Homo sapiens: one gene and its partners. The protein of the gene in region 3 purifies or fractionates together with the protein of the main gene of each other region. This does not show direct contact. Each region holds a gene or a part of one and is shown on either strand. Other genes may lie near its edges. The genes, in order: ANKRD52, ANKRD28, BRSK1 and PPP6R3.

Region 1 (3,567 bases), on a different chromosome or scaffold from region 3:
GCCAAGATTGTGAACAGCCGAGATGCCAAAGGACGGTGAGTGATGGAAGACTTGGGAAGAATCCCAGTTGCCTCTGGCTTCCCCTTTCTGCTTGGGCAGTATACTCTTCCCTATTTTAATCTACCCTGATCCCTGCCTTACAGGACCCCCCTTCACGCCGCTGCCTTCGCGGACAATGTCTCTGGGCTCCGGATGCTGCTGCAGCATCAAGCTGAGGTGAACGCCACTGACCACACTGGCCGCACTGCGCTCATGACGGCGGCTGAGAACGGGCAGACCGCTGCTGTGGGTGTGTAGGGGCCACTTGTGGAAGGGAGGAGCTCCCCTGGGGCATTTGCAGGATGGGTCAGCCCTGCCTGTGGAGGCTGGCTGGGGCTGGGGTTCAGAAAGCAAGAGGGTTGTCTTTGGATGTCTCGCCATCTGCAGACGGGATGCAAAGTGGAGAGCCAGGATGGCTACTGCTCTGGAGGGAGGGGTCAGTCCCTCTATCACATTTCTCTCGTAGAATTTCTGCTGTATCGAGGGAAGGCAGACCTTACTGTGTTGGATGAGAACAAGAACACGGCCCTCCACTTGGCTTGTAGCAAGGTACTTACCTGAAGTGATTGGGGGACTGCATAAGGGGCAGAGCTTGATGAAGAGAGGTAAGTCTCGGTTGCAGAGGGGACTGGGGCAGAAGTGAGGATTGTCCAGCCTATCCGACTGGTTGGGCAGCTGTTTGTCCTCCTGTTACTCTCCCCAACTCCTGCCCTGCACCCTGCCACATTTCTACTTCACAAGTCTCCACTCTCTGTTCCCCTCCCTCAGGGCCATGAGAAATGTGCCCTCATGATCCTGGCAGAAACCCAAGACCTTGGCCTTATCAATGCTACCAACAGTGCGCTGCAGATGTGAGTGCCTGGGGAAGGGGGCTCCTGGCTGGGGGAGGCCAGTGGGTGATGAAAGAGTGGCCGCTGTTCAGAGGCTCTCTGGAGCCCATTGTATTTGTTCAGCACCCTTGCCACCCTGTCTGGAGGTGGAAGGGCAGCTTAGCATCAAGCTCCTTCTTTTTCCTTTTTTCCAAGGCCACTCCACATTGCTGCCCGGAATGGTCTAGCTTCTGTGGTACAGGCCCTGCTGAGTCATGGGGCCACAGTGCTGGCTGTGGATGAAGAAGGTGGGTGGGGTCTGGGGCCCCATGCCTCTCTTGGGTTTGGGGTCAGGGACATTCTTCAGGAGGTGACTTCTTAATCTTGCTATACATGGGATTTTCTTCCCAAGGGAACTCTTCAGAGCAGGGAGCCCACACCAGTACTCTGGAGTCTCAGAGGGGAGCCTGCAGGGTCAGGAGGACTCCACACCCTAGGCTTTGACTCCCATGCCCGCCCTTTAACCCGTACTTAGAGAATCTGCCTGTCAGCCTTCCTGGGCCCTCGTCACCCTTGGATTCTGCCGCTGCTGGGTACCTGCCTGCCTTGGCTCCCTCCACAGAGAAGAGACTTCAGGGCTTGGGGGAGGCTGGCTAGGATACAGGACTCTATGCCTCAGTTCTCCCCCTTGGCCCTGCAGGTCACACCCCAGCACTGGCCTGTGCCCCCAACAAAGATGTGGCAGACTGCCTGGCCTTGATCCTTTCCACCATGAAGCCTTTCCCACCCAAGGACGCCGTCAGTCCTTTCAGCTTCAGCCTGCTCAAGAACTGCAGCATTGCAGCCGCCAAGACGGTGGGTGGCTGCGGCGCCCTGCCCCATGGGGCCTCCTGCCCCTACAGCCAGGAGCGGCCCGGCGCCATTGGGTTAGATGGCTGCTACTCTGAGTAGCCCCCTCCAGTGTCCCTCCCCCGCCGGTGGCTTGATATCTAATTCTATTTATTTAGAAAAAGTCTAAACATTTAGGGCACTTTAAAGGAGAACACGACTGGGTGGAGGGGGCGGAGGGGAAGGAAGCCCTGGGGAGCAGCTGCTCACCCCTTTGCCACACCATCTTGGCCTGGCAGGGGTCTGGGACTGACAGGGAGCACCCCAGGCCCTTGGTACCCCCAGGGCGACCCCTTCTGCCAAGTGTCCCAAAATGATTGCTAAATGCCTGGCTCCCCCACTCTTTGACTCCATCTCTTGGTTCCCTCTTTCTGCTGCCAGCTCCCCCGACTCTTCCCTGGGGACTCCTCTCTGTGTCCCCCTTCTCCCCTGCCCCTACTGCCAGGCAGATCCCCTCTTCTTCCATACCCATCACTGCCTCCCTGCTCGGCCGGTCCCTCCATCCCCGCAGCAGTGAGAAGCCTTAATTTCTGGTACTGTGTGAGCACTCTGGGGGTGTCCCCCTCCCCCCTTCAGGGGCAGCTAGAGGATGAGGGGGGAGGATATTTAGCACTGGGGCCTGGAGCTTTTTCCCCACTTCTGTACCCTATCACCCCTAAAGTTCAAATGCAAAACACTTGAAGCAGCAACTACTGTACCTGGGCCCCAATCCTGCACTCTCCCCTGGCTCCTCATATGCAAATCAAGGGCTGGTTCTGCCCCCACAGCCTGCCCCCTCCCCATTCCCTCCCACTCCTAGCCTGGCCCCTAACCACGCACTTTAACCTTGCTTCTTTCTTTTATCTTCTTTTGGGAGGGCAGAGCCTGTGGTCATTCCTGCCCTGGCTCTCCTTCCCTTGAACTTTGAGGCTTGTCATGAATTTTTAAGTAAGCGTTTTATCCTTTAGGGGAAGAAACAAATTAATTTCCTGCCCATTTCAAAACCACAGCCCTAGTATGTCCACTGTGTTTCAGGCATGTGTTTGCATGTATATGGAGGGAGGGACCATGTTCTTCCTCCTGTGCCGCCAAGCCCATAGTTTATCTGTGCTCCCTATCTGCCTCCACCTTCCGTTATGTCCAAGAGTACCCACTGCCCCAGTCACTCCTGATCTGAAGCCAAAGATGGTAGGAGGGGCAGGGCCGACAAGGGACCGTGGCTACTCGGGACCCAGGCTTCCCCTCCAGTGTGAGGAAGAAGCTCTGACCTAGAGAGAGATGAATAGGTACTGGGGCTTGGTCCCTGCCTTCCCAGCAGGGAGGAAAGATGGGATTGAGCTGGGGGCTGCACTGATAAGATTTCTAAAGTCGCACCCCAAAAGCCAAACTGGGCTGGAGTGAAGAGGGGGCAGTTTTCTCTCTAAATGTAGCATTGAATTTGGCCCTGGTCCCTTTAAGTGCTCTGTCCACCCATCTCCTAGTGCAGCCTCCTGGACAGTTGGACCCACTCCTGCAGCCCAGTGTTCCCTTCCTCACACTCAATACCTCAGCCAGGGGCCAAGACACAGAACTTGAATAGAGGTCATGCCCCCTCCGCCCCCACACTGCATCCTTGCCCAGTTTGGCTGCCATCAGTATTGTCCCCTGAGAACTGGACAGGCTTCGTTTACACAGTACAGGGTCTCCCCTGAGGGGGGATCCTTCAGCCTCCCTCCCCTACTCAAGTTTGCTTTATTCACAGTCTTACCCATCTTTTAGTTGTATACCCTGAATGTCTTGCCACCCTTGTCAAGGGTGGGCTGAGGGGAGGGGGGCGTCCCAGGGACCCCCTCCCTCCCCAACGGATACCTTT
Region 2 (3,567 bases), on a different chromosome or scaffold from region 3:
AAAAGAAGGTTTCTACGGCCTTTGACTGTTAAAGCTGGAATAAATGTGAATTCCTCACAGTAAAACATGACAGGCAGACCGCCTACCCAGCACCCATGCCCTATCATCTGCCTCTAAAAGAATGCTCATTTTATTTAGCTCTCTGGCAATGTGGTCAGGAAGAGTGCCTTGACTCCAGCAAAGGGATGATACCATGATTAGACCAAGTCAATCACAAGAACCCCATTCTCCTCTGACAGTGATCAGTTTTAAGGTGAGCAGCACAGGAACCAGGTCTGACTACTGAGATGCCGATAAGTCTAGAGGCTGCTGGGAAATACTTTTATCTTTAATAATGAAAAGCCCCCATTCCTTCCTGATTTTAGATGCAATCCTTAAAAGCAGCAGCAATAATCCCACAACATGAATGCAAATGTAAGAGAATAACAGAATTTAATCCAGAGCTCTGACACCGTTGTAGAATCAACCAACCCTGGAACTGCATCTGCCTGATATTGCTTTTTTTTTTTTTTTGAGACAGAATCTCGCTCTGTCGCCCAGGCTGGAGTGTAGTGGTGTGATCTTGGCTCACTGCAACTTCCGCCTCCTGGGTTCAAGCAATTCTCTGCCTCAGCCTCCCAAGTAGCTGGGATTACAGGCGCCTGCCACCACACCCGGCGATTTTTTTTGTATTTTTAGGAGAGATGAGGTTTCACCATCTAGGCATGGCTGGTCTTGAACTCCTGACCTCATGATCCACCCACCTCGGCCTCCCAAAGTGCTGGGATTACAGGCATGAGCCACCGTGCCCAGCCTGCCTTTCGACATTGTATATGAGACACTAAACCCCTTAAGCTATTTTCAGTAGGGTACTCTGTTATTTATGGCTGAAATAATTTCAAATGATATATATATATATACATACAGTACAAGAAAAATGATCCATCTAAAGAATGCATGTGTTAAGTCCAAATGCATAAAATGGGCAAGGGTACAAGTAGAAGTAGTCCAAAGAAAAGAGCTTTTGAAGTAAGTTAAATCCTCTGCAAAATTCAGGTCCTGTTAATATATACAAAGTCTGAAGTTTAAAGAAATACATTAGAAAAAAATGTATCTTGCATATGATACAGAAAAGAACGTCTATCACTATTTCTTCTAATTAAAAGATGACAAAACTAGCAAAAGCAAGCTAGGTGCTGAATATTCCACAGTATGTTCCCACAGTTATATTAAATACTAATAGTTATTAAACTTGTGGCTTAAATCACCTCTCCTACCCTAGTCCAATCTGTATGCTGCACTCTGCCAGCAGCTCTCACAGCTTAGCAACAAAAAACAGGGTCGTAACACTTGGGGATGTTCAAGAAGAACTTGTTTGGCCCATCATTTTTCAAATCAGTTCATTTACACTCAGTTCACAGTCGCTACTGATGAATGTTTGTGTCATCTAAGTTCAATACCCAAACAGCAAGCACAGCATCTCTGTGGGAAATGACTGGTAAACCTCCAGGAAAAAAAACCCTCAGTGTTCTTTTCATGGCTTATAGATGCTCTCTATAGACCTCCAAATTTGAAAGGCATCTATAGATACAAGGCTTGCATTTATTGAATAGATAGGCACTAAGAGTAACCTGTGGTTCTTTTTGTGGGTAGGATTTATGCTGAACTATATGGCATTGGTTAACTACTTCTAAGGGACTGGCTAATGTCTCAGTTCAATATTTACCTATTGAGAGTGCAACCACTCCATGCAAGCTTTAAATTAGTTCTGCATATGATCTGCAATTATAATTTTTCTAGCTATAGATTAATATTTTTAAAATGTACTTATTTTTCACAGATCCCATCCAGTGTACAAAATTGATTTTTATTTTATATTTTAGGAACAGGGTTTCATCATGTTGCCTAGAGTGCAATGAAACTGAACTCAAGTGACCCTCTTGCCTCAGCCTCCCAAGTTAGGTGGGAATACAGGCATGCGCCACCAAGTTTGGCTTTGCAAAGTGATATATAACTTCACTCTTTTTCAGAATAAGGTAACAGCAAGTAATGCATTTTAACCTCTTGTTCAAACCATATAGTAGTGTATATATGTTTATTAGAGGTTCTAATGTATTATTAAAATATTTTTCTCAGCCCCACTTGAACATCTGATAGCTTTGAAGGGCGGCTCTGGGAGTAACAGTGGGTGTTATCAATAGTCTTCTAAAATGTAAGCTTCCCAAAGGACTAGAAAAAAAATCCAAGACATATATTCAAATGTATTCTTAAGGATCACTCTATAAAAATAGAGAGTTGTGAATCTGCATCTGCCAGTGATACGCAGTGGGTAGCAAGTCATTTAACTGACTTGGTTATAGACCTTCGTATTTTAACGTATCTGCTACATCATAATATCACAATATGGAATAGTTCTTGCATAAAGTGCTCTGTAAAGCCTGTCTGCATAAATGTTTAATGCAGTACACTGGTAAAATAAGTCAAAACGTGTATCACTTGTTAAATGAAAGATTATACCAATCCAAAATAACTTCTACCAGAAAGAAATAAATACTGCATTGTTTTGTTGATAAAGTGTTTCAGAAGTTAGATTATTACATAAACCCAACTTCTAAGGCAGATAATGTTTTAAGTGATGATAGTCTTGTTGTTGGTATTCCCTGAGAATACAATCATTTTACCACTTAAAGTCAAAAATTTCCCCAGACAGTTGTAGCTCTTGGTAATCTCCTTGGGTCTGGAAACTTTTGAAGAGCCAAGCTGACATTTTTCAGCTCTTTGGGCCACTGGGTTTTAGAGGGAGAAGTCCAGAGATAAGTCCAGGCTGTAGCACAACCTTCAAAACAACACAGGCGCCTCTCTGATCCTGCCCTACCTAAGCTTTGACGGTAGTGGGGCTTCTGTCTGGAGAAATGCCTTCAAAGAGTAACCAGTAGGTGTGACATAGAATTGGCCAATGTTAGCATCTGCAGCCATCATCAAAAGATGAATCCACTGCCACTGCCCCCTGAGGGGCCCCTAAAATTGCAGAAGGTATCAGCAAGGAGGCTGCCAAGGTTGTTTTCCAAGAGAGGCCACAGGAGGAAGGGAGCTACTTGGGGGCACTTACATCTTTTGTGCAGAGGAGCTTCTTTTCATGAGAGCAGGACAGTTTTAATGACTTCTTAAACACTTGTGTGGGACAGGCTGGAGCATGAGGGAGGTTTTAAGCCAGGCACAAAGTTAGTTTCAAACACTAGTTAATAAATCTATTTTTATTTCCTTTTTCACACAGAAGCTGGTAGTCTAGGACCTACATGTAAACAACTTTATATGAATATTTTTTGTGCTTGGTTTACTTGGGTTGATATAATACACTGTATTTAAGTTCCCTGAACACTGGGATACTCCTAATGTTTATGAATGACGGAGGCTTTGTAAATTCATTTGTGTGAATAAAGTTATTTGGTGAGGTCAAATAATCCATATATGATTTGAAAAAAAAAAAGGTCAAAATTTTAAAGACAATTAACTGGAAATATTATATATCAGAAATTGAAAAAAAGTATTGGATAGAAGTTATAAATAAATCAAGCATAATATCTGGCA
Region 3 (3,567 bases):
GAGAAAATAATTTAAAAATGTATACTGATGAAAGACTTGCATCTAGAATAAACAATTCTTTTTTTCTTTGTTAAATTTTCCCCCTTGTTCTTGCTGTCATCATACAGAATAATTTTTAGGAATAATTTTGTTCCTAGAGTAATCTCTTGTTCCTAGAATAAAAAATTGTTACAAATCAATAATAAAAAGACTAAATCAAATTTTAAAAAATAACTGAATTAAAGATGGGCAAAGAGGCCGGGAGTGGTGGCTCACGCCTGTAATCCTAGCACTTTAGGAGGCCTAGGCGGGCAGATCACCTGAGGTCAAGAGTTCGAGACCAGCCTGGCCAACATGGTGAAACCCCGACTTTACTAAAAAAATACAAAATTAGCCAGGTGTAGTGGTGTGCACCTGTAATCCCAGCTACTCCGGAGGCTGAGGCAGGAGAATCAATTGAACCTGGGAGGCAGAGGTTGTAGTGAGCCAAGATCACACCATTGCACTCCTGCTGGGCAACAAGAGCAAAACTCCATCTCAAAAACAAAACAAAACAATACAAAAAGGGCCATGTATCGTATGATTCCATTTATATAAAACGTCTAGAATAGGTAAATCCATACAGACAGAACATAGGTTGCCGGGGGCTGGGGGCAGGAGGGGAATGGGGAGTGACTGCTTACTTAATGGGTACAGGGTGAGAAAATGTTCTAAAATTCCACAGTGGCAGATGTATACCACTGCAAATATATCAAAAACCACTGAATTACACACTCTAAAAGGAGGAATTTTCTGGTGTATGAGTTATGTCTCAATGGGATAAAGGTTTGGGGGCCGACCACATGGCTTTTGCTCAGCCCTCCACATGCCCCCAAGGGCCTGTCTGCTGGGCAGCCCTCAGCCCCTCCTCCCCCTCAAGCTGCCCACTCACCAGATGGAGTAGCTGTGGCAGAAGTCCAGCGCAGACACAATCTGGCGGAAGAACTTTCGGGCCTCCTTGGGCGTCAGTCTCCCCTTCTTTACCAGGTAGTCGAATAGCTCACCCCCCGAGACGTGCTCCAGAACCAGGTACCTAAAGGATATAGAGGGGGCAGAGGGCTGGAAGGGGCATGTGGAGGACCAAAGGGCCTGGTCTCCCACTTCCACTGGCTCCTGGTGGCAGAGAACTCCAATTCCCATGATCCTTGGGAGAAAGAGACTCCAATTCCCATGGGTCCCTGGGAGGAAGAGACTCCAGTTTCCATTAATTCCTGGGAGGAAGAGATTCCAGTTCCCATCACTCCCTGGGAGGAAGTGACTCCAGTTTCCACCAGCCTCTAGGAAACCAAACTCAAGTCCCATTAGCCCTGGGCAGTAGAGCCTCCCATGTCAGCTTCAGAGGGGAACCAACACTTTGACTCATAATGGTTTCAGGAGATAAGGCGACTCTATTAGCACCTGAAGGTCAAAGACCCCAATTCTTATAGGACCCTGGGAAGTGAAGATACCCCTACTCCTATTAGCCCCTAGAAAGCCAAGCCTCTAATTCCCTCTGGAGTGAGGAAACTCAAATTTGAATTCATTTTCGAGTATTAACGATTGCAAGGTTGCACCAGTCCAAGCCAGCTTCTGTGAGGCAATAGACGACAACTCCCATCAGCGCCTAGAAGTTAAAAACCCCCACTTCTGGCCAGACACGGTGGCTTATGCCTGTAATCCCAGCACTTTGGGAGGCCGAAGTGGGTGGATCACTTGAGATCAGGAGTTCAAGACCAGCCTGACCAACATGGTGAAACCCCGTCTCTACTAAAAATACAAAATTAGCTGGGCGTGGTGGTGCGTGCCTGTAATCCCAGCCACTCGGGAGGCTGACGCAGGAGAATCACTTGAACCCAGGAGGTGGAGGTTGTGGTGAGCCGAGATCGAGCCATTGCACTCCAGCCTGGGCAACAAGAGCAAAACTCTGTCTCAAAAAAACAAAACAACAAAAAAACCCCCAAACTCCCTTCCCATAAGCCTCTGGGACACGGGGTTCCAGTTTCCATCAACCATTTTTTTTTGTTGTTGTTGTTGTTTGGAGTTTTTTTTTTTTTTTTTTTGAGACAGAGTCTTGCTCTGTCGCCCACGCTGGAATGCAGTGGCACGATCTTGGCTCACTGCAGCCTCTGCCTCCCAGGTTCAAGCAATTCTCCCACCTCAGCCTCCCAAGTAGGTAGGACTACAGGTGTACCACCACACTCAGCTAATTTTTGTATTTTTTGTAGAGACGGGGTTTTGCCATGTTGCTCAGGCTGGTCTCGAGCTCTTCAAGAAATCCGCCCATCTTGGCCTCCCAAAGTGTTGAGATTACAGGCATGAGCCACCGCGCCTGGCCCCAAAAGCTCAATTTCTATGAGCTCTTAGATGGCTGGGATTCCTGCCCGAAGCATAAACTCCCATGGCCCTGCCTCCCTACGCCAAGAGTGGAGTGGGAGCGACCATGCACCGGTCCGGACAATAGCCCCTCCCTACCACCACACCTGGGAAAGCCTGAGAGCAGGTCCCATGAGCGCCGGGCAGACAGCTTCCCGTGTGGTGAAACCTGCGCCAGCATCGACGGACCTGATGTCAGTTCATCCGGGGGACTGGGTGCCGGGGGGGAACACGAGGGCTGTCCCCTCTCCGGCTTCCCAGCCCAGCTGTCCTTTGGGTCACCAGAGTTTGGACAAAGAGGCCCATTCTCTGGAGTCTGGACAGCTGGACCCCCACCCCCATCCTTCCTGGCGGGTGATTGACTTTGAGATAGTGACTCAGACCTCCTAAGGCGGCCCATTGTTGGGGTGTCCAGCCACGGCACCCGAAGTTATGCCGGGGGAGGAGGGGGGCTCTCCAGTGCTCCAGAGTTGGGGTTTGGGAAGATCCTTTGGGCTTTGCTAGGCCCCTTGCCTTACAAACAGGAGGCATCTGCCCATAGCAGATTGGGTCTGGTCGAGGGCACCCTGCTTGTCTAGCAGAGCGCATTCCATGCAGTGCCACAGGGCGAGGAGCTGGAGCTGGGGACACGGTAGGAGGATGGTTGCCCTTGGCCTCAGGCCCAACACAGCGTGACAACAGTGGGGTTCCCTGTGTGTCAGGGGCTTCCCTGTGCAACAGGCAAGGAACTGGGCCTTCAGCGGTCCAGCCTGGAGAGCTGCAGGTCCCCCAGGTCCCCCTAGGCCCTGTTTCTGGAGAAGTCCCACCCTGGTAACCTGGAGAGGGAGGATGGGGTAGGGCTGGGTGTCTATAAATACCTACAAATATTTCTTGTTCTCGTAGACGTCGTGGAGCTTGAGGACATGTGGGTGTTCGATGAGCTTCAGGATGGCGATCTCCCGCTCCACCTGAGGGTCAAGAGGGGTGGGGACACGGGAAAAGAGGTCAGCACGGCCCCGCCCCTGCCCTCAGCCCCGGAGGCCCCCCCACCCGCAGGCACACTGCAGCAGGCGCACACACCTTCATCAGCACCGACTCCGACAGCTTCTCCCGGTTCACGATCTTGATGGCGACCTTCTGACCCGTGATGCAGTGGACCCCGAGTTTAACCAGCCCTGCAGGAGCAGGGTGAAAATGTGGGGTGTTCCGCCGGGTCCC
Region 4 (3,567 bases), on a different chromosome or scaffold from region 3:
TGATTTTGTACTTCACAGTAACTCTGGGGAAAACCACGGGATTATTAGTTCCAGAATTTCTTACAGTGGAAATACATAGTGACTTGAAGTGATTTGAATTCCCCAGAGATTGACTACCGTGAAATCTGATGGCCCAAGAAAAGATGAATGAAAGATTGTTTTTAGGAACATTAGAGAGCAGGACTAAAACGGCTGCAGACTGATGTTGAGTCAGACAGACTTGGAGAAAGCTGTGTGGGACTGTTAGTTGGAGCCTTGGGTTTCCTATACCTACATGTAAATCTGAACAAAAATTCTGGTGGCAGAGACACACTTTGAGAAAAAAGAGCTTGCCTGAGAACACATGTCACACTGAGACCCTAATCAGGGCAGTTCACACTGCCTGCTCCATGGTTGGCTGGTCAGATTGGTTGGGCTTTGGTCCTCAGATGGGCGTAGCGGGAGGAACACTGACTAGTCTTGACAATTGACTGAGGCTTCCATTCGTGAGAATCATGGTTTTGGGCTGCAACAACACTTAGACGTCATTTATTTTCTATTTATTTATTTTTTTGAGATGGACTCTCAGTCTGTCGCCCAGGCTGGAGTGTAGTGGCGCGATCTCGGCTCACTGCAACCTCCGCCTTACAGGTTGAAGCGATTCTCCTGCCTCAGCCTCCCGAGTAGCTGGGACTACAGGCGTGTGCCATCACACCCAGCTAATTTTTTATTTTTAGTAGAGATGGAGTTTCACCATGTTGGCCAGGCTGGTCTCAAACTCCTGACCTCTAGTGATCCGCCCGTCTTGGCCTCCCAAAGTGTTGAAATTACAGGCATGAGCCACCACGCCCAGCGCATTTATTCTTACAGAAAAATGGAGGCCATGCAGAAGAATGGAACCAGAAGGAGCAGAGAAATCTCAGCCCCGGTGATTCCATAGGATTGTGATGTTCCAGACCACAGTTTTAAGTGCTATTTGTTTCAAGAGTGACATCACAGCTGGATTTTACTTAGAATTCAGAATAAGTGGTTAACGTCTGGAATTTTATTTTTGGTAGTAGTATGTGTCAGTTTTTTGTCACTGTATAGTAGTTGAGGAGTTCTTTTTTGTTGACATAGAGATACACAGGGTTTGTATTGCCTTTGGACAATGGACAGGTCTCATCTGTCTCTTTTGTCTGCAAGTGAGACCCTGCCCCTTCTGAGTAAACAACACTCTGTGAATGACTGTCCCTTTTCACTGTGGACTTCTTGTTATTACACCCTTAGATGGACTCAGCAGCTATGAGATCCTCCCATCATAGGTATGGTATTTTGTAACAAAAGTACAGAAACACCTCCAAGGTGCAGTGAATGATCTCAAGGAGAGAAATGGAGTATTATAGGATCATAGAGAGGCCTCGAGGTCTAACCAGCTGCTCTGCGGAAGTCAGGGTGATGGTGGTTTCAGTGTTGGGGAGGTTACAGAGTTAGTGTTGATATGCAAATTTTCTTCCTCCAAATTTGGAGTATGTTATATATGTTTTAATGTATATAACTGTGAATATGAATATAACATTAGAACATATATAACATAATTTCTGCTGGTGGAGTAGAGATCATAAATTTGAGGTTTGCAGTTTGCTTTCTAAAACATCTTTTAAGTTTATTCTTTTCTGGCACACAGGACGTTGTAGGGTAACTTTGCTGTGGAGTCTCACATTTTATATAGAATCATTTTTTCAACATAGTGTGGATAATCACATACGCCTTGAAGGATCAATATATGTTAACAGATGATTGGATCTTTTTGATTTTGCACTTAATTTCTTTACAAATTCTGCATTATAACCAGACAGCTCTATTGAGGGTTTGCAGATTTTTTCTGTAAAGGACCAGTTAGTAAATATTTTAGGCATTGGAGGCTAAATGGTCTCTGCAAGGACTCATCTCTGCTTTTGTAGTGTGAAAGCAGCCATAGCCAATCTGTAAACAAATGAAGGTGGCTGTCTTCCAATAGGACTTTACTTATAAAAGCAGACAGAGAGTTGGATTTGGCCTGTGGGTTGTAGTTTGTCAATGCCTGCTCTAATCTGTTTTGTCTTTGTTTATCTTTTTGAGATAGAGTCCCAGGCTAGAGTGCAGTGGTGTAATCTGGAGTGCAGTGGTGTAATCCCAGGCTAGAGTGCAGTGGTTTTTGTTTATTTTTTTGAGATAGAGTCCCAGGCTGGAGTGCAGTATAGCTCACTGCAGCCTTGACTGACCTCCCTGGCTGAAACGATTCTCTCACCTCAGCCTCCCGAGTAGCTGGGACTGTAGGCACATGCTACTACACCCAGGTAATTTTTTTTTTTTTTTTCTTGTAGAGACAAGATCTTCCGATGTTGCCCAGGCTGGTCTTGAACTCCTGGGCTCAAGCAGTCCTCCCACCTTGTTTTCCCAAAGTGCTGAGATAACAGGTGTGAACTACCATGCCTGGCCTCTAATCTGTTTTTTTATTTTAACTTGTAATTGGACTATGAATTCAAAGAGTATATATCAGCATGTGCCCAGATATTAAACATTAGAACTGACACTTGTGTACCCACTAACCAGCTTAGGAAATAGAAGGTTGCCATACCTTTGGCTCCCTGTGTCCTCGTCTCACCACTTCCCTCTTTCTGACCTCCCCAAGGCAAATACCTTGTATGTATCATTTTTCTGCTTTACTTTATGGTGTTGCAAAGTATAAATGTATCCTTATATAATGTGACTTCATTTTTGCATTCCTTTAGACAATGTAAATGGAGTCACTTTGTTCTTTTTTTGCCCCCACTCAACATTGTTTCTGTGATCCTTTTATTCAGATGTTTGAGTACTTACCATGTCTTAAACACTGTTCTACTGCTGGGCATGTTAACAGTAAGCAAAGCAGATGAAAAGTCCTTGTTTTCATGGAGCTTACATTTTGGTAGGGGAAAGACAGTTAACAGATAAATGAAAGATACAGTAGCCATATGGTAATACAAACAGGGAGAAAAGTAAACCAGGAGAGGTGGGGTGTGGGGGAGTGCTTGTCTGCAGATTGAAATACAGCAGTCAACAGAAGGAGTGGAGGGACCCAGCCACAAGGCTGTGGGTGGCAGTGGGGTAGGGGCAGCATTATAGGCGGAGGGTCAGCAGGACAAGGTGCTAAGAAGGAGGCATGTCTGCTGTGTTGGAGGGGCAGCGGAGGCCAGTGTGGCTGGAGTGAGGAGCCTGAGGGAGAGTGGGAGGAGGGTAGGCCAGATGGATGGGGGAGATGGGGGGAGGGCGTAGGTCACACTGGCCATTGTTAAGATTTTGTCTTTTTCTCTGAGTGAGATGGGTAAGTCATTTGGTGTTTTGAGCAGAGGTGTCACATGATGTGGTTTCTAAAGGTCCCACTGTCCTGTGCTGCTGGAGGGAGGTTGGACGCTCTGGCAGTGATCCAGGAGAGCAGTAATGGCAGCTGGGACTGAAGGGGAGCAGGGGTGGGAGTGAGAAGAGGTTGGCTGCTGGATCCTTCTTGAAAAGGAAGAGCAGACAGGATTTGCTGGCAGATTGGAGTGGGTGTGAGAGAGGAGTAAAGGATGATACCAGGGATTTTTG

The links.
Region 1: the proteins of BRSK1 (region 3) and ANKRD52 purify together in Homo sapiens (affinity purification with mass spectrometry; one large-scale study listed by BioGRID and IntAct). This does not show direct contact.
Region 2: the proteins of BRSK1 (region 3) and ANKRD28 purify together in Homo sapiens (affinity purification with mass spectrometry; one large-scale study listed by BioGRID and IntAct). This does not show direct contact.
Region 4: the proteins of BRSK1 (region 3) and PPP6R3 purify together in Homo sapiens (affinity purification with mass spectrometry, with the first as the bait; one large-scale study listed by BioGRID). This does not show direct contact.

Annotation. Positions count from the first base shown.
Region 1 is NC_000012.12:56,241,374-56,244,940, reverse strand, and holds part of ANKRD52 (serine/threonine-protein phosphatase 6 regulatory ankyrin repeat subunit C), read left to right. Parts: coding exon 1-35; intron 36-143; coding exon 144-289; intron 290-505; coding exon 506-588; intron 589-807; coding exon 808-890; intron 891-1,064; coding exon 1,065-1,156; intron 1,157-1,548; coding exon 1,549-1,799; 3' UTR 1,800-3,567. UniProt on the Homo sapiens protein: Putative regulatory subunit of protein phosphatase 6 (PP6) that may be involved in the recognition of phosphoprotein substrates.
Region 2 is NC_000003.12:15,686,449-15,690,015, forward strand, and holds part of ANKRD28 (serine/threonine-protein phosphatase 6 regulatory ankyrin repeat subunit A), read right to left. Parts: intron 3,441-3,567; exon of another isoform or gene 1,899-3,440; coding exon of another isoform or gene 1,863-1,898; intron 1-1,862. UniProt on the Homo sapiens protein: Regulatory subunit of protein phosphatase 6 (PP6) that may be involved in the recognition of phosphoprotein substrates. Involved in the PP6-mediated dephosphorylation of NFKBIE opposing its degradation in response to TNF-alpha.
Region 3 is NC_000019.10:55,286,964-55,290,530, reverse strand, and holds part of BRSK1 (serine/threonine-protein kinase BRSK1), read right to left. Parts: intron 3,525-3,567; coding exon 3,430-3,524; intron 3,318-3,429; coding exon 3,232-3,317; intron 1,052-3,231; coding exon 911-1,051; intron 1-910. UniProt on the Homo sapiens protein: Serine/threonine-protein kinase that plays a key role in polarization of neurons and centrosome duplication. Phosphorylates CDC25B, CDC25C, MAPT/TAU, RIMS1, TUBG1, TUBG2 and WEE1.
Region 4 is NC_000011.10:68,467,240-68,470,806, forward strand, and holds part of PPP6R3 (serine/threonine-protein phosphatase 6 regulatory subunit 3), read left to right. Parts: intron 1-3,567.